Homo sapiens: one gene and its partners. Changing the gene in region 1 together with any one later gene gives a genetic interaction. Each region holds a gene or a part of one and is shown in the gene's direction. Other genes may lie near its edges.

What was found.
Region 2: changes in HAPSTR1 (region 1) and MRPL37 together harm fitness more than expected from each alone (negative genetic interaction), as found in Homo sapiens cells (one large-scale study listed by BioGRID).
Region 3: changes in HAPSTR1 (region 1) and CFI together harm fitness less than expected from each alone (positive genetic interaction), as found in Homo sapiens cells (one large-scale study listed by BioGRID).
Region 4: changes in HAPSTR1 (region 1) and ZNF736 together harm fitness more than expected from each alone (negative genetic interaction), as found in Homo sapiens cells (one large-scale study listed by BioGRID).
Region 5: changes in HAPSTR1 (region 1) and CPSF7 together harm fitness less than expected from each alone (positive genetic interaction), as found in Homo sapiens cells (one large-scale study listed by BioGRID).
Region 6: changes in HAPSTR1 (region 1) and DIRAS1 together harm fitness less than expected from each alone (positive genetic interaction), as found in Homo sapiens cells (one large-scale study listed by BioGRID).
Region 7: changes in HAPSTR1 (region 1) and SPACA7 together harm fitness less than expected from each alone (positive genetic interaction), as found in Homo sapiens cells (one large-scale study listed by BioGRID).

Annotation. Positions count from the first base shown.
Region 1 is NC_000016.10:9,090,297-9,094,443, forward strand, and holds the start of HAPSTR1 (HUWE1-associated protein modifying stress responses 1), read left to right. Parts: upstream 1-1,347; 5' UTR 1,348-1,748; coding exon 1,749-1,974; intron 1,975-2,624; coding exon 2,625-2,705; intron 2,706-4,147. UniProt on the Homo sapiens protein: Acts as a central player within a network of stress response pathways promoting cellular adaptability. The E3 ligase HUWE1 assists HAPSTR1 in controlling stress signaling and in turn, HUWE1 feeds back to promote the degradation of HAPSTR1.
Region 2 is NC_000001.11:54,206,667-54,210,166, forward strand, and holds part of MRPL37 (large ribosomal subunit protein mL37), read left to right. Parts: intron 1-3,279; coding exon 3,280-3,465; intron 3,466-3,500.
Region 3 is NC_000004.12:109,746,500-109,749,999, reverse strand, and holds part of CFI (complement factor I isoform 2 preproprotein), read left to right. Parts: intron 1-397; coding exon 398-501; intron 502-678; coding exon 679-782; intron 783-3,497; coding exon 3,498-3,500. UniProt on the Homo sapiens protein: Trypsin-like serine protease that plays an essential role in regulating the immune response by controlling all complement pathways.
Region 4 is NC_000007.14:64,312,744-64,316,760, forward strand, and holds the start of ZNF736 (zinc finger protein 736), read left to right. Parts: upstream 1-1,217; 5' UTR 1,218-1,407; coding exon 1,408-1,410; intron 1,411-4,017. UniProt on the Homo sapiens protein: May be involved in transcriptional regulation.
Region 5 is NC_000011.10:61,409,476-61,412,975, reverse strand, and holds part of CPSF7 (cleavage and polyadenylation specificity factor subunit 7), read left to right. Parts: intron 1-1,038; coding exon 1,039-1,207; intron 1,208-1,870; coding exon 1,871-2,033; 3' UTR 2,034-2,038; exon of another isoform or gene 2,039-2,395; intron 2,396-3,500.
Region 6 is NC_000019.10:2,718,573-2,722,572, reverse strand, and holds the start of DIRAS1 (GTP-binding protein Di-Ras1), read left to right. Parts: upstream 1-1,200; 5' UTR 1,201-1,269; intron 1,270-3,095; exon of another isoform or gene 3,096-4,000. UniProt on the Homo sapiens protein: Displays low GTPase activity and exists predominantly in the GTP-bound form.
Region 7 is NC_000013.11:112,403,855-112,407,354, forward strand, and holds part of SPACA7 (sperm acrosome-associated protein 7 precursor), read left to right. Parts: intron 1-3,500.

The DNA of each region.
Region 1 (4,147 bases):
TCGCAGGCTGCGGGCGACGCTGCCTCTGGCCGGCGCCCTCCGCCGCTCCAGGCCGGATGGTGCCTCCCGTGGGCATGTAGGTGGGGATGGTGGGTTTTGCCTCTGTGCGGTCACCGCCTGTCTGCGTTGCTGCCTTCTCCGGGGCCTCAGACCCTGGAGAAAGCCCCGACAGGGGAGGGGGGCGCGCAGCCGCAGGGGCGTCCAGCTATCGCGCACTGCGGGGGGAGTAGGGGCGGGCGCAGCGCTCGGCACCGCCACGCGGGTTCGGGCCGGGGAAGGCAGGGGCCGGTACGTGACGCGGGGCATGCACGTGGCCTGGGAGTGTGCTTTTCGGGACAGGTGCGGGGGCCGCCGCGCGCGCAAAGGCGCAGACGCACGCGTGCGGGCACCGGGCACCGTCGGCCGTCGGGTTATCCTTGGCTCCGCGGGCGGCCGCCGAGGTCCTGTCCACCCGGAAGGCGCGACGTCCTCGGGGGACGCCAGGGCGCAGGGGCAACTGAGCCGACTTCGCAACTCGGAAGTTTTTCTTTGGCTGTGATGGTCGATTTGCCCGTCTAAGAAATGGGACTCTGGGCCGGGCGCGGTGGCTCAAGCCTGTAATCCCAGCGCCCTGGGAGGCTGGAAGATCGCCTGAGGCCAGCAGTCTAGACCTCGACAACGTAGCAAGACCCCGTCTCAAAAAAAAAAAAAAAAAAGGGGGAGTACTCAAAAGAATAGGAAAGCGCTTTGCAAACTTGGACACGAGTTGGGCGTTTTATTCACTTTCTCTACTACCCTCCTCCCTTTGGGAGCCCCAGGGGCTGGAGTAAGCACGCTACCACCCACTATACCTCTCAGTGCCCGCGGCACAGGAGCCGCACTCGACTTTGCATCCCCCCAGGGCCTGTACACGCCGGAAAAGCTCCCGCGGGGTGCGGTCGCTGGGCCTCGTCACGTGATCCCCACTCAACGCCCCTGAGCGGGGGGGGGAGCAGCGAGCAAGTGCGCATGCGCATCCCTTCTAGCTCTTCCCCTCCACCCCCCACCCGCCCCCTTGGCTCGGACGCAACCACTGTCAGCTCCTCCCCCTCCTCCTCCTTCATCCTTCCTGACATTCACTCCCTTCCCCCAGCCAATTGGTTACGTCAGGCAGACAGGCCGAAGAACCAATCACGACGCTGTGCTCAGAAGCCGCCACGCGGAACCGGCCGGATCCGACTAATAGGGGCCCTTGGAGCGGCCACGCCTCAACCGGGCAGGGTAGCTTGGGCCCAGTGGGCGGTGCTTCTCCTGTCAGCATGTGGGCGGGGTAGGGCGGGGACCAGCAGCCGCAGAGCCGTCCTCGGCGGTGGCGACGACGACGACGTTGCTCAGTCTTGGGGTGGGCTCCGCGGTGCAGGCCGAGCTGCGCGGAGGGCTCGGCGATCAGCGGCGGCGGCGGCAGTGGGGAGGCCGCAGCGCCATGGGGGGGCGTTAGACAGGCTGCGGCGGCCGAGGCGAGGGGCGGCAGCGGTTATCTGGTCCGCGGCGACCTTCGGCCGGGCCCGGGGGTGGGAAGGCCTGGGGCGGGGGTCGTCCCTGGTTGCACGGGGCCGCGGGGCGGGGCTCGCCGGCCGTCGGGGTGCAGGAGGCCTGGGCCGCTGAAAGGAGAAGGCGCCGTCGGTCGCCAGGCCCTGCCGCCGGGCCGCTTGACGACGACGCTCCCGCGGGGGCCCCGCCTGAGGAGGACGCGGCGGCGGTGGCGGCGAGGCCGCGGGAGGCCGCGGAGGATGGAGGAGCGGAAGGAGGAGGGCGAGGCCGAGATCCAGGAGCACGGGCCCGAGCACTGGTTCTCCAAGTGGGAGCGGCAGTGCCTGGCCGAGGCCGAACAGGACGAGCAGCTGCCCCCCGAGCTGCAGGAGGAGGCGGCGGCCGCCGCGCAGCCCGAGCACAAGCAGCAGAAGCTGTGGCACCTCTTCCAGAACTCGGCCACCGCCGTGGCCCAGCTCTACAAAGGTGAGGCCGCCGCCGCCATCTTGGTACCGCTTGGCCGCCCCCGCCCGGGCCCGGCCCCGGCCCTATCGGCTCAGCGGCCGCTTCGGGGGGCCGCGACGGCGGCGGCCTCGGGGATCCCGGCCGGTGGCTCCGCGGCCCTGCCGCCCCCTCCCCGCAAGATGGCGCCGCGGGAGGGAGGCCCGGGGTTGGGGGGACAGGCCAGAGCCGGCGTGGGGGTAGCCCCGCTTTGGGGTGGTCCGAGGGTCCCCGCTCTCCGGGCCCGGCCACCCGGTGTCCCCCTCGGCCCGGAGACGGGAGAGGAGGAGCCCCCGTCACAAAATGGCGAAGGGAGACGGCGGGGCGGCCCCATTGTGCCCTGAGCCGGCCTCGGGGCGGGGACTGCCAGGGGGGGCGCTTCCCTGCGCCGCGGCTCGTCCCTGATCTGTGCCCCTGAGCTCTGCGGCATCCCCTTTTCCCCGCCGCGACCTCCCTGCCCCCCCGGTCCTCACACTGGGTTTGGGATCCCGAAACCCCTGAACAAAATGGCGAAACCTAATATGGCCGTTCCGGAGTGATTGACGCGCAAATAACATTCTTGTTCTCTTTCTTTCTCTTTCTATGTGTGTTTCTTTTTTCTTTTTGGTTTTTTTTTTTTTTGGCTTGCTTTTCAGACCGAGTGTGTCAGCAGCCAGGACTTTCTCTCTGGGTCCCCTTCCAAAACGCAGCCACCGCCGTCACCAATCTCTACAAAGGTAAAGATAACCTTGCTGCATTGCCGATTCAGGGAAGGGCCGCCTGCGTCAGGGTGTCTGCCCTGCGTTCCAAGTGTGTTTTCTGCTCCCCAGCCCAGCTGCTAACCTTGAATACCTTGCAACTTGAGAATCGCGGCGGTGCTCTAGCTAGATCCACCGGAGGCGATTTTGACACCTCCCTCCGCCCCCCGGGACAGATGGCAACGCCTGGGGACGTTTTTGGTTGGCTTCTCCTAGAAGGGGCTGTTGTTGGGCACCCAGTGTATAGAGGCTGCTGAAGGTCCTGCAGTGCCCAAGATAACCGCCCCGGCCCCCTCTCAGCGAAGAATTATCATGCCCCTAAAGTCAGTAGTGCTCAGGTTGAGAAGCGTTGAGCTGGAAGACGGCTGAGCCTTGCCTCCCTCTGGAAAAGACATTGAGGGAAGATAAGAGTTGATGTTTTTTGTACTACAGTCGGAAGTGGGACGAACTTTATGGAAAAGATTCTTGAGTTAGGCATTTGAAAGCGTGGCAGTCTATATAGTTTTGAAGTGCTTGAAAGCTTGCTAATCGGAGTCATCTGCGCGCATGTTAACGTGCTGCTCTTCTCTAGCAATTTGATCAAGTGTTTTCTGTTAAAAGGATCCTATATTTGATTATAAGTTGCTGGCAGGAATTCTGTTGAGAGTTTTGAGTCCATAGGTTTGTTTTATGGTGGTTCCTTTCTGGAGTTAATCCCCCTCCCTTTGTGATGACATGAAGATGTGTAAGTAAACGTTCTTGCCCATTTGTGCATTCTTGGTAACGGTGGGTTTAGATTTTGTGCCTTACTGGTTTTGAAGATTGAGAAATTTGGGGTTGATTTTTTTTTTTGGCAAGATTTTTATGGAAAAAGGATTTGACTTTGTTAATCTTAAGAAATATGTAATTAAATGTTTTCAGACTTTTAAAAGTTGCTCAGAACAGTAATGGAACTTTGTGCATTTCAAAAATACCAATATTGGTATTTTTGCCATATATATTTAGGCCATATATAGGTTGAAACGGGCTATGAAGGTGCTGCTTGACTGTCAAGTTGTTAATTTTTGCATAAGAATGTGCAAATGGCCGCAGCATCTTGTAGGAAAAAATATCTCCTTGTGAGATTTCTTGAGTAGACTACAGTTTTTTGGGACAGTAATTTGAGAACTGGTAACAAAGTGGTGAAAAGAAACGCTAACTTTAGGGAATGAGGAACTGTAATAATAATAGTCCAGTCTTACTGAAAAAAGGGAAACATGGTTAAATAGTGCCTCAGTGGTTAGCTTTGATTTTATATAGCTGTTTGTTAAATTGTGACTGAGTAAATTGCTTCAACATCTATCAGTGCTGACGGTCTTGAACGTTTTGGAATGGCTCTTGGTTTTGTCCAAAAACAGAATTTTGAAATAATACTTAATTAAAAAAAAGGTTTCTGGGAGTGT
Region 2 (3,500 bases), on another chromosome or scaffold:
CCTAAAGTGCTGGGATTACAGACATGAGCCACTGTTCCCGGCCTAGAATACTCTTTTCTGCTTTCTTTTCTTTTCTTTTTTTTTTTTTTCCAGATGGAGTTTTGCTCTTGTTGCCTGGGCTGGAGTGCAGTGGCGTCAGCTCACTGCAACCTCCGCATCCTGGGTTCAAGTGATTCTCCTGTCTCAGCCTCTCAAGTAGCTGGGATTACAGGTACCCGCCACCATGCCCAGCTAATTTTTGTGTGTGTGTGTGTGTGTGTATTTTTAGTAGAGACGGGGTTTCACTATTTTGGCCGGGCTGGTCTTGAACTCCTGACCTCAGGCAATCCACCCGCCTTGGCCTTCCAAACTGCGGGAATACAGGCGTGAGCCACCGTGCTTGGCCCGCTGCTTTCTTCATTTAACCAAATTCTCCTTATCTGCAAGACTTCACTCAAGCCCCCCTTCTCTGTGAATCCAGGCTGGGGTATCTTTTCCTCCTCTGTGTTCTTTATGCCCATTCTGCCATCATAGCACAGATTACACTGTATTGTCAGTATCTACTGTCGGTTCTGTCTACCCCACTCAACTGAACTCCTAATGGCTGGGACCATATCTTACTCACATTGTCCACAGTGTCTAACAGTTCATGGTACACAGTAGGTGCTGACTGAAGGGATGTGTAAATGCATATACCTACTGTTGGTGTTTCAGGCAGGGATGTTCAGAGAACACAGGTGTTCTAACTGGTGGAATCCTGGAGCAGGAAAACCAGCTACGGAATGATCTGGGATTTCAGGACATCTGCTTGGTCAGGATTTGTGTATAGACTTCCTGGCAATGAGTCAGCTTTGCAGAGGTAATGACACCACTAAGGAAATTAGTGAACCTCATTAATAGAGGAGTACTTGGCCCATCATCAAGTATTACCTCTAATTAAACTACCCCATTTGGAGCTGTCACTGGAGGAGGGATATGGAGGGAATTGAATCAGAAACCACACAAGAGTGGTCTGTGGGGAGAATGGAAAACCCAAGGTTAAGAGAGGTCCATGCACATTTATTTTTCTTGCAGATTATATGTGAGGAAACAGGAAATACTTTAGAAAACTATTCTTGAGGTGTGACAGATCAGAGTTTATCCACCCCCAGATGTAGTATCCCTTTCTTACCTATCCAGTAAGGGAGGCCACATGCTAATTAATGACAGTGCTGTTGACCAAACCAATTCTTAGACATACAAGAAAACCGGCCTTGATCCATTACCATCACACTGTGGCTATTTCTGAAAACCCAAGCACCTTCTGAGAAAGATTTGCCTCCGTGGATACTCCTCAGGAGGCCATTCTCAAGGTGTTTTTCCAGGCACATTTTGTCTGGTGGTAGCATGTGACCTCCTGTGGGGACCTCTGTGAAGGGCATCTATGCATGTTCACAATGGCTGGCTTGCTGATGAGTCAGATGTGAGTTTGTTTTCCTCTTGTCACCTACGTCTGCATGTAGCATATATGCTAATCCGACTTCAGTGAGGCTGTTTGACTGGCTAGGGTTTTCTCACTCTCAGTTGTTAAGGACAATCTGGCCCCTTTCCTAAGTTTAAGAATCTCCTCTGCCTTGGCTGGGTGCGGTGGCTCATTCCTGTAATCCCAGCACTTTGGGAGGCCAAGGTGGGTGGATCATGAGGTCAGGAGATCAAGACCATCCTGGCTATCACGGTGAAACCCGGTCTCTACTAAAAATACAAAAACAAAAAAATTAGCCGGGCATGGTGATGGGCACCCATAGTCCCAGCTACTCGGGAGGCTGAGGCGGGAGAATGGCGTGAACCCGGAAGGCGGAGCTTGCAGTGAGCTGAGATTGCGCCACTGCACTCCAGCCTGGGCGACAGAGCAAGACTCCGTCTCAAAAAAAAAAAAAAAAAAAAAGAATCTCCTCTCTAACTCTAGTCTCAGTGCTCCTCTCTCTCTCCATCACTTCTTCCCTGCTGTATCCTACTCTAGTCACCTGGATTTCTCTCCTTAAATTCTGCCACGGAGTTGCCTGCACCTGACTTTTGCACATTATTCCTCCTTAACTAGAGTGCTTTTCCCCCTTTCTTTGCCTGGCAAGCTCTTACCCAGTGGTTTTCAACTAGGGACAGTTTTTCCCTCTGGAGAACATTTGGCAGTGTGTGGAGACATCTTTGACATGATGTGGATGGGGTGTGGGGAGTTGGGATGGGGAGGGAGTTAAAATGGCATCTAGTAAGTAGAAGCCAGGATGCTGCTAAACATCCCACAGTACACAGGACATTCCCTCCCCCCACTCCGCCAAAGAGTTATCTGATCCAAATGTGAATAGTGCTGCAGTTGAGAATCTCTGCTCTTATCCATCCTTCCAGATGTCATTTTAAGGCATTGCTTCTTTCAGGGAACTTCCCATTCCCAGAGAAGTTCAGTTTTCCCCACCTGTACAATTTTTGAATATGTTTCATCCTTTTCACTGTAGCACTCACTACCTGGTGGGCTCCTTGAGAGGAGAGAGTAACTCTCACACATCTCTGGTTCCCCAGGTTACAGCAGGTGCTCAGGAAGATCTGGATGGGGCAGGCTTCGCTCCCCAGAGACCATCAGCCCTCAGGGTTTACTAGGAAGGGAACACAGGAAGAAGAGTGCATTGGTTCATCCCCTCTTAGGGATCCCAGGATTAACATCCTAACTCAAAGTTTTGTGTTCTGTGATTAGGCTGATCAAGAAATGCTATAAATGACTTGAGGCACATGGGAGGATGAAGGCTTTAGACTTTGCAGGATTGAGAAAGTCTTTAATTTTTTTTTTTTTTTTTTTTAAGTTTTTTGAGACAGTTTCACTCTGTCACCCAGGCTGGAGTGCAGTGCCGTCATCTCAGCTCACTGCAAGCTCCGCCTCCCAGGTTCATGCCATTCTCCCGCCTCAGCCTCCCGAGTAGCTGGGACTACAGGTGCCAGCCACCATGCCCGGCTAATTTTTTGTGTTTTTAGTAGAGACTGGGTTTCACCGCGTTAGCCAGGATGGTCTTGATATCCTGACCTCGTGATCCACCCGCCTCAGCCTCCCAAAGTGCTGGGATTACAGGCGTGAGCCTACCATGCCTGGCCAATTTTTTGTATTTTTTAGTAGAGATGGGGCTTTGTCATGTTGCCCAGGCTGACCTAGAACTCCTGGCTTCCAATGATCCACCTGCCTTGGCCTCCCAAAGTGCTGGGATTATAGGCATGAGCTACTGCGCCTAGCTGCGAAAGCCTTTAGTACCAGGTTAGAGTAACCATTTTTCTCCCTTTTAGAGTCTCTTCTCCTTCAAGTCCGTGGTTCTGGTGGAGCCCGACTGAGCACTAAGGATCCTCTGCCCACCATCGCCTCCAGAGAGGAGATTGAAGCTACTAAGAATCATGTTCTAGAGACCTTCTACCCCATATCACCCATCATCGATCTTCATGAATGCAATATTTATGATGTGAAAAATGACACAGGTAAGGATCAATGTCTTGGACTTTTAGGCAGTGTG
Region 3 (3,500 bases), on another chromosome or scaffold:
AAAGAAAAGAAAAGACACAGTTTGCCATGTTGTTAGTTTACCCTGATGATTTCAGAATGTGATTCCCTTCTGAGCTGCCACTGCCACAGTGCCTGGACATGTGGCATCCTTTATCAGCTAGAGGCTGGTAAATGTTTAACCTCTTGGCCAGCCCTTTTCTGCCACTAGTCTATCTTTAGGCAGAACTTCAGAGAATCAAGCCAATTTTAATATCAAGCCAGAATTTTTAAATAAGATGAATAGTATGGTTTAGCATTCAAAATAATTTACTAATGATTCCAGCCTGTCTTGTACTGGCTGTGACTCTCCTGTTTTTGTGGCATAGATAATCAAGAAGTGTGTTAAAAACGCTAATGGGTTCAAGATAATAATGATGTAATCTCTTCCTTTCTTGAAGAAAGAAGACGGATAAAATCATTATTACCTAAACTATCTTGTGGAGTTAAAAACAGAATGCACATTCGAAGGAAACGAATTGTGGGAGGAAAGCGAGCACAACTGGTAAAGTCGCATGAAAAGTCACAATGCAACTGCCCAGAAACAGCCTAAATTTGGGGGGAAAGGGGCAGGAGGATGATGTAATTATAAGAGACTGGGAGTCTTGCCATGGAAATATCTTAGGGCTGTTTGTATCGCTATCTGTTAGAATGGCAGTGACCACACAAATGTCTTTTACAGGGAGACCTCCCATGGCAGGTGGCAATTAAGGATGCCAGTGGAATCACCTGTGGGGGAATTTATATTGGTGGCTGTTGGATTCTGACTGCTGCACATTGTCTCAGGTAAAAGATGTCTTCAGTAAATTTTAGATTTCCCGAAACAATGAAAGTGAGTAATAGAGATTGTGGCAGATGATAAAGCATATCTGAAAAAGGTACTGACAAACTCCACTATATTAATTGCAAAGTATCCTCTGGTATTCGCGACTGGAATTCCAGAGGCTAATCCCGTAGAATCTACTGTGTCCTCCACAGACCAAAATTGCTGATCTCACTGGCAAAGGCAGATCAAACCCATAGCTGCCAAATTACTTCACCTGGCTTATTTGCAAAGTGGGAGAGTGGGTAGGTACTACTTACATTTTGTTCTCCACTGTGGCCTACCTATATTTTCTTTACTGTGTGGCTCAAGAGTCATGTTGCCATACCTAGTTTTGATTACTTGTCACCTAAAATGCAATGACTTTGCATTCCTCTTAGGATAAGAATTGAAACAAAAATTTTAACATGGCCCATGAGGCCCCATGTAATCTGACCTCTGCTAACCTTTGCCAATCTCATCTTGCCCCACAGAGCCACCTCCTGCTCCCTGTTCCACCACCTCTACTCTGGATTGCTTTCTGCTACTCAAGTGCATTTGCCCCCTCCTGCAAAGGGACCTTCATATATTGTTTCCCCTGCCAGAAATGATCTTCCTTACCCTTTTCCCTACTTAGTCGTACCCTTTGTTCAGATCTCAGCTCAATCTTCACTTCCTTAGGGAACCTTCCCTGACTCCCTTAAGTCAAAGCCCTCTTGATAAGTTCTTAAAAGCCCACATACTGTTCATTCCTCTCACTTTTCATGGTAGAACATATTATTTTCATCAGTGTGATGATCCATTTACTGCTGCATCTTTCCCTAGATCGTGAACTCCATGAAAGCAGGAACTGTTTCTGATTTTGCTCATTTCTGCATCTCAGTGCCTAACACAGTGCCTGGTACATATAGGTTCACACTAAGTATTTGTTGAATAAATTGACTAAATAAATAATATTTACAACCTGTGATCCTGAAAAACAATCAAAATTAATATGAAGGACAGTATTCTTGGAACACTATAAACAAAAGCTTCCTGAACATCTCATTATTTCCTAGGACACCACCTTTTAAGGTGGTTACCTGAATCACCCTTATGTAAAGATAAATTCTGTTCAGTTAATGCTGTTTGAGAAAGCAGAAGTTATATAGATCAGGGATACTCTACCCCTGAGCTGCAGACAAGTACTGATCTGTGGCCTGTTAGGAACTGAGGTGAGTGGTGGGCGAGCATTACCACCTGAGCTCCACCTCCTGTCAGATCAGCAGCAGCATTAGATTCTCATAGGAGTGCAAACCCTATTGTGAATTGCACATGTGAAGGATCTAGGCTGTGCAATCCTTATGAGAATCTAATGCCTGGTGATCTGAAGTGAAAGCGTTTCATCCGGAAATCATCCCCTCCTCCCCCGAGTTTTCCACAGTTCCATGGAAAAATTGTCTTCCACAAAACCTGTCCCTGGTGCCAAAAAGGTTGAGGAACACTGATATAAATAATACATTTTTTGAAAAGATTTCCATTAAATTGTTTAAAAATAAGTTTTATTGCTTAAGAAAAATCCATTCTGTAAAATAATTTATTGTTTGGAAATGTTAGACTATGAGGTCATAATTTAGCACCCTACTTCTAATCAAACCAAAAAAACTAAGCTATAATACTTTGCCGAAGTGACTCTATACTGTTCCATGAGAAGATGATGGTAGATGCCTGATTTGCTTGAAACTATGAGTTGAAAATTGATAAGAGGCCAGGTGCGGTGGCTCACGCCTATAATCCCAGCACTTTGGTAGGTTTGAGACCAGCCTGGGGAACATAGCAAGACCCCATTTCTACAAAAAAATTTTTTTAAATTAGCTTAATGTGGTGGCACATGCCTGTAGTTCTAGTTACTAGGGAGGCTGAGGTGGGAGTGTCTCCTGAGCTCAGGAGTCAAGGCTGCAGTGAGCTATGTTCACACCACTGTACTCCAGCTTAGGCAAAAGAGTGAGACCCTGTCTCTGTTTTAAAAAGAAAGAAGGGAAGAAAGAAACTTGATATGAAAATGTAGTGAAGCATAAGAATAGGCAATATTTAGCTCATTCACCATTTCAACAGGATTTTAAAACAGCTACTATGATCCAGATATAATAGTAGGCACCAGGGCTGCACAGATGAATCAGACCCCATCTCTGGCTTCAAGCAGCACAGTCTAGTGTGAGGAAAGGCATGTGAACAAATAAATACAATGCAATGTTAGGATAAAGTTAGTCTTAAGGGTCAGGATAATGACTGCTGTGGCCTTTGCCCTGGGAACCTCTAGGGTTGGCAGAGTAATGAGTGTGTGTGGTCCAACTCCCTAGTTCCTTAACTACATTTATGGCAAGATGCTGTCTGGTCTCTGCTTAAACACCTGCAGCGACGGCACACTCACTCCAGAGGCAGCAAACTCATTCCACTTTTGGGCATCTCTAGTTGTTAATGTGTTCTTTATGTTCCTCATATTGAGCAGTTACATGGATTATTCCTAGCTTTATCATTTACCATTGACCTAATTCTGCACTAAGTAAATTTAATCTCATTGCTTCATGACAGCAAGCATTTACAAAATTCTGGGGAAATGAAAAAGGTTTTTAAAAGGGAAAAATATAAAAGTGAAGTGTCAGAATTCCTATTTATATTTTTTCTCAATATATTTTATTTCCTTTTTTTTTCTGTTATAGAGC
Region 4 (4,017 bases), on another chromosome or scaffold:
ATCACAGGTACCTGCCTTTTTGCTGCTTTAGCCTCATCTGGGCTTTCTGTGGTTTCTTCTCTAGGGTGGCCAACTTGGGTGTCTTCCTCTGCCAGGGTCAAGGACAAGGTCAGTGATATTATGCTCCCTTCACCCAGTTATGCCCAGTTACATTGACCTGGTACCCTGGATAACTGGTGTGAGTCAAGCTGGTCCAGTGCTCCTGCCACCTCCAGTAAACTCTGATTCTAGATTCACTCCCTGCTGCAACACTCACTGTGTGTGGAACCTTGGGCATGCAGCCAGGCCTCCCTGAGACTGTTTCTCAACTTGAAAGTGTGATGGGAACCACACCTACCTCACTGGGCCTCGTGAGGACTCAGTTATATGTAGCCGTCACCATTGTTCTCATCATCATCTCTCTCAGGAAGAGCCAGGCACAAGCACTCTCAAATTTTTCTCCTTTGAAGCTCCTCATTACCCTGTGAGGCTCATCATCCCTACATTTTTTAGATAAGAAAACAGAGGCCCAAAGAGGGCAGTGACTTGCCCAGGGCTCTACAGAAGAGGCCGGCTCCTCCCCACACCTGGAGGCCCTGACCTAGCTGACTTTACCCCACAGCCCAGCACTATCCCTGACTAGGGTCCCATCTTGGTTCTCCATGCTTGTTTAGGTCCTCAGGCAGGCTCAGCTTTGGTGGGAAAGAGACAGGGTGTTTTGGGAGGCCTGGGCGAGTGGCACCTCTAACCAATCTGCTAGGCCCTCACCTCTCAGTCTCACTGAGACACTCCATTAATTGGAAGCAGACCCAAAATTGCTTCACAGACTGAAGGTGATAATTGTCTACAGCCAGCTGAAGCAGCTGCATCTCCTGGAGGACTTTGATCTCCTGCAGCTAAAGGGAAAGACAGGATGCTGAGACAGGGCCTGCAGCATACACATAACTATAATTCAGAATGTAATATATACACACACACGAAAATATAATCAGAAAGTGATATAATCTTATATGCAAGGTTAAATACAAATGTCTCTCAGGCAGGGCCAGGCCCCCAGCACAGGGAGGACTCGCCTGAAAACGCTGCAGGCAAAAACCTGTCACCCTTGCCTCATTCAGCCCAGTGTCTGATTACATCTTCTGTCACTTAGGATTGAAACGGGTGGGGCCTGGAGCCCTAGCCAATCAGTGGCGCCAGCGTGAAACTGTCCAATCAAGTGCGCAGCTACAGAGGAAGAGGCGGCCTCTTCAATATGGCGGGGCCTTTGTCTCCTAGCTTCCGGGCTCTGATCCTAGTTCGCGTCTCCACTGTTCCATCTCCTCCGTTCCTGGAGTTCCTCGGTGACTCTACTATAGCTTCTGTTATCCTGTGACCTGCAGGTACTGGGAGATCCATAGGGAGGACGGCGGAACATCTGGAGGCTGGGAAATGGTGAGTGCGTGGAGTGGGTGTCCCGAGAATGGGGAAGAGGCTGTTTGAATCCGGCCGGAACCGGCTGCGGTGGTATCTGGGCCTTCTCGCGGTCTGCTCTGGAGTCTGCATCCCCGAGTCCCCGCGGGCACAGCTCAATCCTCATTTCCCTCCATCGCAGATTAGGGGCTGAGCCAGCAGCCAAAACGCTACGTCTTGTTTTGTCCCTAAACTCGAATTTCTCCCCAGCTCAGATCCCTTCCTGGGCAGCTCTGTGCCGCAACCTCGAGTCTCCCTCCTCCAGATTGTGTGGGGGTGTTGGGAGTGTCATAAGACGGGAATTCTCATTTAGGGTCTGGAGTTCCTCCGTGGAAGAAGCAGTGGGCCGTGGGGTCCCTAGTCCCTCCTTTCTCCTTTTAAAAATAAAATCATGGCCCTTTTTTAAATTTATTTATTTTTGAGACAGTGTCTCACTCTGTTGCCCAGGCTAAAGTGCATTTCGGTTCACTGCAGCCTCCACCTACTGGGCTCAGATGATCCTCTCACCCCAGCCCCCCAAGTAGCTAGGACTAGAGGGGTGCGCCACCACGCCTATTTTGTTTTGTTTGTTTTTGTAGAGACAGGCTTTTGCCATGTTGCTCAGGCTGGTCTCGAACTCCCCGAGCTCAGGTCTCAGGTGATCCGCCCGCCTCGGGCCTCCTAAAGTGCCGGGATTACGTGCATGACCCACCACCCTAGCCTAAATTGAGGCAACTTTAGGATATAATTTGGATGTGTTTTCCAGCCCAAATCTCCTATTTAAATGTAATCCCCCATGTTGGAGGTGGGGCCTGGTGGAAGGATTGTGGGCCCGGATTTCTCACGAATAGTTTAGCACCATTCCTCTTGGTATTGTCCTCTCAATAGTGAGTGAGTTCCCTGAAGTTCATCATTTAGAAGTGTACAGCACCCCACCTTGCCTCTTTTTCAAGCTCTTGCTTCACCTTCATCCATGATTTTAAGCTTTCTGGGTGGGGCCTCCCCAGAAGCAGACGCTGGTGTTATGCTTTCTATGCAGCCTGTGGAACCATGAGCCAATTAATCCTCTTATAAATTACCCAGTCTGAGGTATTTATAGTAATGCCAGAAGCGATTAATACAAATAGTTTACTTGCACAAACAGTAATTTATCAATCAGAGAACACCCAGCTATGATTTGTTGTTTGGGGGCTCAAAGGAGGGTCTTGGAACAAAAGGTTGTTTTTTTTTTTTAAGAGGTATGAGGAAGCAAACCAGATTCAATATTTGATTGGTTACAGTTACGTATTGCATTTGCAGCCCTCCGGTGGAAATGTCCTGGTTATGTAATTAGAGCTTTTTATTGGCAGCTTGTGGTTGGTTAAGCCTAAGTTGTTTTGTTGTTGTTGTTGTTGTTTCTCAAAGTTAATAATTTACCAGAAATTCCTTCGACGTAGTTAGGTTTCCTTAGGCAGAATCCCAGGGCACCATGGCCACTTCAGCCTAATTGCTAGCTATTTAATTATTTTAATGCTCCACAGGGTCGTTGGTTTTCTCTGCATTTTTCAAATGTTTGGCAAGCAGGGTCTCAAATCTAAAACTGTTCTCCCAGCCTAACTGTTCTAGGGACTGTATAAAATTCTAAATTTCCAATTTCTTTCCCACATTCCCAAATGCCAACTATCCCTCTCCAAATCACATTATGAACTATCAGTTCTTTATTTAATTTTAAAACGGATGTGGCATTTTGTTTATTTTTGTTTAACAGAGCCGTGGGTGGCTCTTTTTAATATATTAGTCTGTTTGTGCATATTTCACAGGACAGAAAAGCAAAGAGTAGTCACCTGACACTGCGCATCTCCTCTCATCTTCTCTAGGCACGCGCGCCTTCCCAGAATGTCTTTGGATCCTTTGCAGGGTGATGTGTCCTCAGTCACTCTCCTGTGTTTTCCTGGTCCAAGTATTACAGCTTTCTGGGGATGATCCAAGATACCCACAAGGACCATATCTCTTGGAGTGTCTAGCAAACATTAGCCCCTGGGTCATCTCCTTTCAGAGAAGAGCCTGAGGCATTGGGTGGAGCCTCTCAGGGGAGCAGCTGGATGCCCTCGTGCTGAGAGCAGTTTCCTGATTCACCCTTCCTCTAAAAAGCTAACTGCTTTAACATTAAGATTTTTTTCCCCTCAATCCTAGTTTTCATTTCTTGCAGACACATTGGTGGTCAACCAATCAGGTGCTGATATTGAGGGGAAAAGGCACAAATGCATCTTGCCCTCTGGTTTCTCTCAGGCTTGTGAAGGAGAATAACTGTCCCAAAGTACAGGAAAGATCCACTCTAGTGAGGGAGTGTATAAATTTGCAAAGCAAAATACACATCTGCCACACAGGGGGCAAGTGCAGTATCTTTTGGGAGAGTGATGATCAAGTACTTTAGTGAGCAGAATGGGGGTGGGAGAATCTCTCAAGTGATTGACACATGAGTCTAAAACATTTGTGTTCCAGTCAGCACTACTTCTCCCTGTGTTTGTCACCTTCAATATATATGTTCAGTTATTTCAACTTCAGTTTTTCATTAATTGTATAATGGATTTTATCATTAGAGCTTGAAAGATTAAAAAAAAAATTTTCTAA
Region 5 (3,500 bases), on another chromosome or scaffold:
TCAAAAACAAAATAGTCCTCTATACAAGGACCATCAACCAATAAGACCACCTTTTATAGTTTATATTCCTCCAGAATTTTTTCTATGCATATGACAATTTATATAATTTTTATTGTTTTTACAAAAACAGGATATGGTTTTGAAACTTGCTTGTTTCAATTAGTATATTCTGGACACCTATTATATCAACATATAACATAACATTTATTGATCCTTACTGTGTGCCTGGCACTGTGCTAAGGGCTTTACATGGATTACTTTGTTTACATACAGGTTTACCTCCTGCTTTTTTAATTGTTAATAGTACATTAATAATGTAATATTCTGTAGAACCAATGTTCCTTTATATAGCCAGACCCTATTGAAGATAATATAACAAACAACACTGGCCGGGCGCAGTGGCTCATGCCTGTAATCCCAGCACTTTGGGAGGCCAAGGCGGGCGGATCACAGGGTCAGGAGATCAAGACCATCCTGGCTAACACGGTGAAACTCCGTCTCTATTAATAATACAAAACATTAGCTGGGTGTGGTGGCAGGCGCCTGTAGTCCCAGCTACTCAGGAGGCTGAGGCAGGAGGATGGCGTGAACCTGGGAGGCGGAGCTTGCAGTGAGCCGAGATCACGGCCACTGCACTCCAGCCTGGGCAACAGAGTGAGACTGTCTCAAAAAAAAAAAAAATGAAAAAAAATAAACACTAAAACACTGTTAAACATACACACTTGTGAACAGAAGTAGAAAATTTTTAATAGAATTGCTGGCTCAAAAAATATGCACATTGTTTATTTTAATAGATGTCAAATAGCCCCTGGACAACAGTGTGTCAGTTTGTTCATCTGACAACATCTGTTAAATTCCGAACTGCTGGAATATAGGTGTCATCCAGTTTTACACTTGCAACATCTGCCTTGTCTCTTTTACCGCGGTTGTTTGGGACGGCTAGCTACTCTTGGTTTGTGTCTGCCTGAGTTCTCCTTTTGGTCCAGTTAGTTTACCATCTCTCCTCACCCTTGGCCTTTCTCCTTCATCCTTTATCAGGGGATTACAGTGACGCAATTGAGACGCTGCTCACAGCCATTGCGGTTATCAAACAGTCCCGGGTTGCCAATGATGAGCGTTGCCGTGTCCTCATCTCCTCTCTTAAGGACTGTCTTCATGGCATCGAAGCCAAGTCCTACAGTGTGGGTGCCAGTGGGAGCTCTTCCAGGTGAGTTGGTGATTGTGTCCTCACCTACCAGCCCCAAGCAGCACTCTTCCAGGGATAGGGAGTGGGGACAAATGGAGCCCAGGGAATCTGGGAAAGACCTGGCCGAAAGTCTGGACGTTAGCCTTCATGTCTTTTTGGGGAAGAAACTAATCAGATGCTTTCATTAATAAGTGTTGTAACATCTGGAATCTGGTGGGTGAGGCAGTGGGCTCATGTAGGAAAAAATACAGACAGATATTTTTAAGAACATGGGTTTTGGAGCCCTACAAGCTTGGATTGGAATCCCAGTTCTGCTGCTAACTATCTGTATGACCTTCTTGTGTATGGAAGTTAGTCAACTTTCCAAGCCTTATTTTTCTCATTTTCTAAAAAAGGGACACTGATAGTATTTATCTTACAGACCTGTTGTAAAGATTAGGTCAGATAATCCATACAAAATTATTAGCACTACACCTGATAAATTAGTTCTCAACAGATAAATTTACCTGTTAATCATCTTCCCAAAAAAGAGTAGTCCTCAAAGAGCTAAAATCCTCAGACAGCAGGCCCATGATAGAGTAATAGAGGAATAGTTTAGGCAAATATCAGAAGACACCAAAACACCACATTCTTGGAAAGAAAGTGGTAGGCCTTCTGAGTGAGGCTGAAGGATCTTTCTAATAGGAAAAGACATCGCTCCCGGGAAAGGTCACCTAGCCGGTCCCGGGAGAGCAGCAGGAGGCACCGGGATCTGCTTCATAATGAAGATCGGCATGATGATTATTTCCAAGAAAGGAACCGGGAGCATGAGAGACACCGGGATAGAGAACGGGACCGGCACCACTGAGAAAGGTGGGGAGAAGCCCCGTTCCTGGCTGCTGGGGGATTTTTTATTAAAAAAAGATTTATAGTGAAGAATTCTCTCTCTTTAAAGCAAAAGTAAATGCAGCAAGGGTAGGGGGAACTTCTGATTTACATAACTGGAATTTCAGGGCAGATTTTCTGCACATTTATGGGGAGTCTTACCCTGAGATTCAGCTGTTTCTGCTTGTTTCTTGACTGCCTTAACCTGGTATCTGAGTGAGAGTATGGTGTCTGCATTCAGGTACCAATTTGAATCCCAGTTTCTCCACTAATAATTGGCCATATTACTTTCTGTTCCACAGTTTCATTTGTAAATGAAGATAATAAAAGCAACTGTCCCAGTGACTTGCTAAGTTTTAGTGAGAGAGTCCATGTAGACCATTTAGCACTCATGGTACCTGTCACATAGTAAGTTCTCAATAATTAATAGCCATTGTTATTATCATTATGAACTTTCAATTTAAATTAGGAAAATTGACTAAGAATAGTAAAGCCATTGCCACTTAGTTTTCAAGCTGCAACATTAATGATTTTAAGAATTAGGCTTGGCATGATGGCTCACACCTATGATCCCAGCACTTTGGGAGGCCAAGATGGGAGGATTGTTTGAGCCAGGAGTTCGAGACCAGCCTGGGCAACATAGGGAGACCCTGTCTCTACAAAAAATACAAAAATTAGCCAAGTGTGGTGGTCCCAGCTACTTAGGAGGTGGAGGTGGGAGGGTTGCTTGAGCCTAGGAGGTCGAGGCTGCAGTGATCTGTGATTGCACCACTGCACTCTGGCCTGAGCGACAGTGAGACCTTGTCTGAAAAAAGGTAGGGAGGAGGGGCGGGTGGGTGCCTCATGCCTGTAATCCCATCACTTCAGTAATTTGGGAGGCAGAGGCTAGAGGATCACTTAAGCAGGAGTTTGAGACCAGCCTGAGCAACATAGTGAAACCCTATCTTTTTTTTTTTGAGACAGAGCCTCACTTTGCCGCCCACGCTGGAGTATAGTGGCATGATCTCAGCTCACTGCAACCCCCACTTCCCGGGTTCAAGCTATTCTGCCTCAGCCTCCCCAGCAGCTGGGGCTACAGGCGCGCGTCACCACGCCCGCTAATTTTTCTGTTTTTAGTAGAGGCGGGGCTTTACCATACTGGCCAGGTTGGCCTTGAACTCCTGACTTCGTGATCAGCCCACCTTGGCCTCCCAAAGTGCTAGGATTACAGGCGTGAGCCACCATGCCTGGCCGAGACCCCATCTCTTTAAAAAAAAAAAAACGGTTTATTTAAAAGATTTTGAAAATTAATATGCTTTAGTCAGAGAGGAGAAAGCTGATCTGAAAAATTATCTTTAACAGGTTTAGAGGCTTTGTGGTGGATAATTAACTTCAACGGAAGGGTTTTTTGCTTTTGGAAAAGACTTAGTGACAAGGTTGTTTATTTTGTTGTTGTGTTTTTTGTTTTGTT
Region 6 (4,000 bases), on another chromosome or scaffold:
GGAGAGGGGACTGAGTGGTCTTGGAGGCAGTGCCAAGTCTCCGCAGAGGCAGATGGGCCCACCTCATCCAGGGCCATGGAAATGGTGGGTCATGGAGAACCCCAGGAGCTGAGGGCCCAAGGGGTTCACCTGCTCACAGGCCTGGTGATGGGGAGCTCACCACCTTCCAGACCAGCCTCTCACCCACTGATGGCTCTGACTCTGGAGAGACCCCTGTGGGTCCCAGAGTTGGCCTCTCCACCAAGGGGCGCCTTCCTCTGACAGCCTTGCGGCCTGGGACTGTCCCGCACCCACCCCTGAGAGCACCTTCTGGCCTGGTCACTAGACCCCAAAGTCCAGTCTCCTCTGGGATCTGCCCGATGAGGCCAAAAGGAACCTCGGCCTCCCGGTCTCCAAAATGGAGGCGGAACCATGGTCTCTTGTGGACACACAGACGCATCAGAAAAGCCAGTGCTCCCCTAAGACACCTCCTGTTGGGGGAACACAAACATTTTCCTAACCGAAAACGGCAAACCCATCCGCTGCAGAGCAGCGCCAGCCCCCTTTGCTCACCCCCCACCTCCCTAGGCCTGACTGCCATGGGCTGCCTCCGCCTCCACAAAACCAGCCCTACAGAGCGCTGAGTCCGCTTCTGCCCCCATCCCGCCCCTGCCCAGGCCCCTGGGATGGGTGGGCCTCCAGGTGCACCCCATTGACCTGAACCCTCCCGCCTCTGCCCGCTTCTAAACCTGTTCATTGATTGTTGATTATCGACTTACTCATTTCACAACGCACCCCTCTGATTCCCCGCCCTGCGTGTGACCGGGCCCCAGCCGGCCTCAGGGGTCCCGTTCTGCACCCCCTTTATCCGCATTTCTGCCAAAGCCCTCCACCCCCGGCTGGACTCTGCTCCTCCCAAGCCGGGCTCCTGGCCCCCACTCGGGGTTCCCCGGGAAGCGGCCCCAGCTCCCACCCCGAGGGAGGGCGCGCGCAGGTGGCTACGTGGCAGGGCGGGGGTCCCGGATCCTGGCGACCTCTCCCACCCCGGGCGCGGGCAGGGGTCCCGCGTGGGGCGGCGGTGACCTTGGCCGGGCGGCGCGCCGGCCCCGTGGGCGCGGGTCCCCGGGGCGGGGCGGGGCGGGGCGGGGCGGGGCGGAGCGCGGGGCCCGGCGGGCGGGGACGGCGCGGGCGCGACTGCGGCGGCTCGGGCGGGCGGGGGGCGGCGGCGCCAGCGGACACCGGAGCGGGCAGGAGCAGCGGCCGCGGCGCCGCAGGGACCAGCGGGCCCAGGTAGGCGGCCCGGGGCGGGGAGGGGGTCCCTGCGCAGCCCCCAGCCGGCCGTCCTCCCCGCCGCGCGTCCCTCCTTTGTCCCGGCCCCAGCCTCCCGGGCCTTGGGGCCGGGCCCTTCCCCGCGTGGCTCCGGGGCCCCTCGCCGGGCGTCCCCCGTCCCTTCCCGCCGGGCCCGGCCGGCCCCTCCGCGCTCACCTTGGACAGCTCCCGGCCGCCTCCCCTCCCCCACCCGGAGGGCGCCCCCCTGCCGAGCCCGCCCCACCGAGGCCCACCCCGCCGCCCCTCTCCGCATTGGTCCCCTCGGGCAGGGCCTCCTCCCTCCTGCAGCCGCCTTCTTCGCCCTCCGCCCCGCTGCCCAGCCAAGCCCCTCCCTCCGCGCCCCCTCCCCGGGGTGGGCTCCTCCTCTCCACCACTGAGGTCCTCCTGAGTCAAGGGTCGCCCCTGGGCTGGCCCCGCACTGTGCCTCTGCGCCCTCGGGCCCCCTAGAGCAGGCCCTTTCTCCATCAAACCCCTCACCGGCCAGGCGGCCCTGGGTCAGACCCCCGCCCCACCCTTGGTCAGGCGTGACCCCCGCTAGACCCCTGGGTCGCGGCTCTCTCTGCTTTCCTGACCCTGAGCTTTGCTTTGACACCCCCGCCCCCACCAACCACGCCGTGCCCGGCCGGGAGCCGGGCTTCAGGGACCCAGGGCTGGGGTAGATTGGCCCTGCCTGGACGTCTGGGGGTGGGCTGCCCCGCACAGGCGGGAAACCCCAGGAGTCTAGCCAAGCAGGGTGGGCTTCCAGCCCCGCTGTGCGCCTCCACCCCCCTGCTCTGTGACCTTGAGCCAGCCCCTCCTGCTCCTGCCTCGGTGCCCACGACCCCCTCCCTCCACCCGCACCCCCCAGGCGGTGGAGGTGGGAAGTGGCGTGGGCTTCGGGGCTGTTGAGTGCAAGCGCCTTTCTGGTCAGGGATTCCAGACCCAGCGGGGAGGACAGTACTGCTCATGGGGGCTGGAGCTTCAGTGCCCGCAGCAAGGCAAAGGCTGGATCTGGGTCCACAGAACCCATGGCCATTAGGACCCCAGGCCGGTCTTGGTGGCGTCTTTCTGCACAGCAGCGTGCCCGCCTCTCAGGGCGCCCACCCAGGAAAGGGCAGGGTCTGCAGCACAGGCCGCCTCCCCCCCACCACCAGCACCCCCAGCCTCCTCCGAATGCCGAGAAATTACTATGCATGTAGTCCACAAACCCGGCAGCCAATCACATGAGTTGGCATTGCCGAGGCGCCCAGAAGTTTGCCTGGCTCATCACAACTGGGGACTGTGTCAGCTGGCGCTTTCATCAGCCTCTTTTCTTTTCCTGGCAAATCTGTTACCCTTGATAATCCAGAAGGTGCCTTTGCAACCAACAGGCACAGCCAAGTGCCCTGCCCACCGGCCCCAAGCCCTTGTGACTGTGATCACAATTGTGATCGGGGTCTCCGCTGTACAGGGCACTGCCTAGGGCCTTTCTCCACCTTGTCACCTTACTTGCCCCAACAGTGGCTCGCATTTCACAGAAGAGAAAACGGAGGCTTAGGGACTTGAATTTGCCTGTTTAGGTTCAAACCACTGACCCCCGGGGAACCTCTGGACCCTCCCCATAAACACACCCCCACCCCCAGTGCAGCAGGTAGAAACTGGTTCCTCCTCCTCTCCCACTGTAGACCACCTTGCTGGGGAACACCCCTCCCCCACCCCCCACCGCTGCCCCAGAGCCTGGAAGGAGGAAGGGGAGGGGAGGACATCAATTCTGGAGATAAGCCACCCGCCCTCCCCCCAGCGTTCTTCCCCCACCTCCATCATTTCAGGATCTGCTGTGCTGTGTGACCTCCTCAGGCTGCTGGACCTCTCTGAGCCCAAGAAGGAAGAGAGGGGCTAAGAGGTGCCCCTCCCAGGAAGTGCTATTCTAAGGATCCTTCAGACCTGAACGGGAGGGGCTAGGGCACACCAGGCCATAGTTTGATTTTAGAGTTTAGGGAGTGGCGATTTTCCCGTTCAGCTTCTGGATTTTGTATTTTTGTGTCCCACCTGGGCTGCAAGACCCTTCCTCCCTGGGGCGGCTATTGGGAATCAGTGCCCTGATTTGCAAATTGTGGTTCTCAGATTCCCAGCCTCAGGATCCCATTTATGGCAGGTGAGGAGAGCAGCCCTGTAATACAAGTTCCAGCTGGATGCGGTGTCTCACACCTGGAATCCCAGCACTTTGGGAGCCCGAGGCGAGAGGAGCACCTGAGGTCAGGAGTTCAAGACCAGCCTGGCCAACATGGCGAAACCCCGTCTCTACTGAAAATACAAAAATTAGCCGGGTGTGGTGGTGCATGCCTGTAATCCCAGCTACTCTGGAGGCTGAGGCAGGAGAATTGCTTGAACCGAGGAGGCAGAGGTTGCAGTGAGCCGAGATTGCACCACTGAACTCCAACCTGGGCAACAGAGCAAGACTTGGTTTTAAAAAAAATAAGAAGGCCAGGTGCAGTGGCTCACGCCTGTAACCCCAGCACTTTGGGAGGCCGAGGTGGGTGGATCACCTGAGGTCAGGAGTTCAAGACCTGCCTGACCAACATGGAGAAACCCTGCCTCTACTAAAAATATAAAATTAGCCGGGCTTTGTGGTGCATGCCTGTAATCCTAGCTACTTGGGAGGCTGAGGCAAGAGAATAGCTTGAACCCGGGAGGTGGAGGTTGCGGCGAGCCAAGATTGTGCCATTGCACTCCA
Region 7 (3,500 bases), on another chromosome or scaffold:
TGCAATTGCAAATTGTGCTGTGATAAGCATGTATGTGCAAGTGTCTTTTTCATATAATAACTTCTTTTCCTCTGGGTAGATATGCAGTAGTAGGATTGCTGGATCACATGGTAGTTCTACTTTTAGTTCTTTAAGGAATCTCCACACTGTTTTCCATAGTGGTTGTACCACTTTACATTCCCACCAGCAGTGGAGAAGCATTCCCTTTTTACCACATCCACATCACCATCTATTATTTTTTGATTTTTTGATTATGGCCACTCTTGCAGGAGTGAGGTGGTATAGCATTGTGGTTTTGATTTGTATTTCCCTGATCATTAGTGATGTTCAGCATTTTTTCAACTGTTCGTTGGCCATTTGTATATATTCTTTTGAGAATTGTCTATTCATGTCCTCAGCCCACTTTTTGATGGGATTGTTTGTTTTTTCTTGCTGATTTTTTCATTGTAGATTCTGGATATTAGTCCTTTATCAAATGTATAGATTGTGAAGATTTTCTCCCACTCTGTGGATTGTCTGTTCACTCTGCTGATTATTTCTCTTGCTGTGCAGAAGCTTTTTCATTTCATTAAGTCCCATCTATCTTTGTTTTTGTTGTATTTGCATTTGGGTTCTTGCTCATGAAGTCTTTGCCTAAGCAAATGTCTAGAAGGTTTTTTTCCAATGTTATCTTCTAGAATTGGTATGGTTTCAGGTCTTAAATTTAAGTCCTTTATCCATCTTGAGTTGATTTTTGTATAAGCTGAGAGACAAGGATCCAGTTTCATTCTTCTACATGTGGCTTGTCAATTATACCAGCACCATTTGTTGAATAGGGTGTCCTTTCTCCACTTTATGTTTTTTGTTTGCTTTGTTGAAGATCAGTTGGCTGTAAGGACTTGGCTTTATTTCTGGGTTCTCTATTCTGTTCTTTTGGTCTATGTGCCTATTTTTATACTAGTACCATTCTGTTTGGGTGACTATAGCCTTATAGTATAGTTTAAAGTCAGATAATGTGATGCCTCCAGATTTGTTCTTCTTGCTTAGTCTTGCTTTGGCTATGCAAGCTCTTTTTTCATTCCATATAAATTTTAAGACAAAATCCAGTGTTTTGATATACTAATTAGCTCCATTGTATTCTCTTCTTTTTTTTTTTTTTTTTTTTTTTTAAGACAGTCTCGCTGTGTCGCCCAGGCAGGAGTGCAGTGGCGCTATCTCGGCTCACTGCAAGCTCCGCCTCCCGGGTTCACGCCATTCTCCCGCCTCAGCCTCCAGAGCAGCTGGGACTACAGGCATCCGCCAACATGCCCAGCTAATTTTTTGTATTTTTAGTAGAGACGGGGTTTCACCGTGTTAGCCAGGATGTATTTTCTTCTTTACCTCATTAATTTCTGCCTTTGTCACTAATATTACCTTCTTTATTTTCTCTTATAGTTCACTTTCTTGCTCTTTTTCTAGTTTTAGACCTCAGTAATTCTTTTATTTTTTTCCTTTTACCAATAAGTGTTTAGTGCTGTGTTTCTTTAAATGTATTTCACAGATTCTCATGTATAGTGTTTTCATTATTATTTTCCAGAAATTTATCATTTTAGCTTGTATTTCCCTTTTAACCAAAAGTTTTCCAATTCCCAGGTAACAGGGCATTTTGTCTTTGTTTTTCATAATAATTTCTAGTTTTATTGCCCTGTGATCAGAAAGTACTGTTTGTAATAGTTTTACTTTACAAAATTTGCTCATGGTTTCATAAATATATTCAATTTTTGTGAATGTTCCATAAGCACTTGAGAAACAGGTGTATTCTCCAGTGTCAAGATTTAACTGGAATCTGGTGTGTGTTAATAACAACAACCTTTTGATTATGTTGTTTAAGTCTCCTCTTACATTTTACACCTATTCAACCTGTCTTTTGTTAAGAATAGTGTAAAAATTCTCTATTATAAATATTTTTCTGTGTCTCCTTGCATTTTCTGTAGTTTTTGCTTTATGAGTGTGATTCCTGTGTTATTTGGTGCATAGATTTTTATGAATATTATATCTTCGTTGTGAATTCCAACTTTTAGCATCGAAAAGATACTTTCTTTGTCATGTTAATGTTTTGAGGATTGGATATTTCTTTCTCTGCCATAAGGACCACTATCTCTCTGCTTTCATATTAAATAATAAGATATATTTTGTCCATTCTTTATTTTTTAGTTTACCATTTAAACTTTTATTTTTATTCATTTGCTTTTTTCTTCAATTTTTAAAATTGTGCTAAAATACCCACAACATAATTTGCCATGGTAACCATTTTTAACTGTACAGTTCCATGATGTTAAACATATTCATAATGCTGTCTAACCATCACCACCATGTGTCTCCAGAATTATTTCTATCACCCCAAATTGAAACTCTGTACCATTAAGGAATAACTCCCCTTTCTGCCTCCCTCCAGGCTCTGGCAGCCACCATTCTACTTTCTGTTTCTATGAATTTGACTAGTCAGGTGCCTCATATAAGTGGAATCACACGGTATTTGTCCTTCTGTGATTGGTTTATTTCACTTAGCATAATGTCTTCAAGGTTCATCCCTGTCTTAGCATGTGTCAGAATTTTCTCTCTTTTTAAGGCCAAGTAATTTGGAAATTACATATCTGATAGAGATTAATATTGAGAATGTATTTTAAAAACTCCTAAAACCCAACAACAAATAACTCTATCTAAAAATTAGCAAGGGACTTGAATAGAGATTTTTTTCCAAGAAGATATACATGGCCAATAAGTCCATGAAAAGATGTTCATTATCACCAATTATTAGGGAAATATAAATCAACACTACAATGAGATATTACCTCACAATCATTAGGATGGGTAACATTAATGGATGAGTTAAGCCCATTTACATTATGGATGTGACTGATAATTCATCACAACTCTATCAAAATATTATAAAATTATGTGGATTGTGTTACATTCGCTATGTTTCTTCAGGAGATAAATATTCCTTGTTCTTAGGATATCCAGGAATTGAACTCAGCTCTTCACCAAGAGGACCTAATAGACATCTACAGAACTCTCCACCCCAAATCAACAGAATATACATTCTTCTCAGCACCACATCACACTTATTCCAAAATTGACCACATAGTTGGAAGTAAAGCACTCCTCAGCAAATGTAAAAGAATAGAAATTATAACAAACTGTCTCTCAGACCACAGTGCAATCAAACTAGAACTCAGGATTAAGAAACTCACTCAAAACCACTCAACTACATGGAAACTGAATAACCTGCTCCTGAATGACTACTGGGTACATAACAAAATGAAGGCAGAAATAAAGATATTCTTTGAAACCAATGAGAACAAAGACACAACATACCAGAATTTCTGGGACACATTTAAAGCAGTATGTAGAGGGAAATTTATAGCACTAAATGCCCACAAGAGAAAGCAGGAAATATCTAAAATTGACACCCTAACATCACAATGAAAAGAACTAGAGAAGCAAGAGCAAACACATTCAAAAGCTAGCAGAAGGCAAGA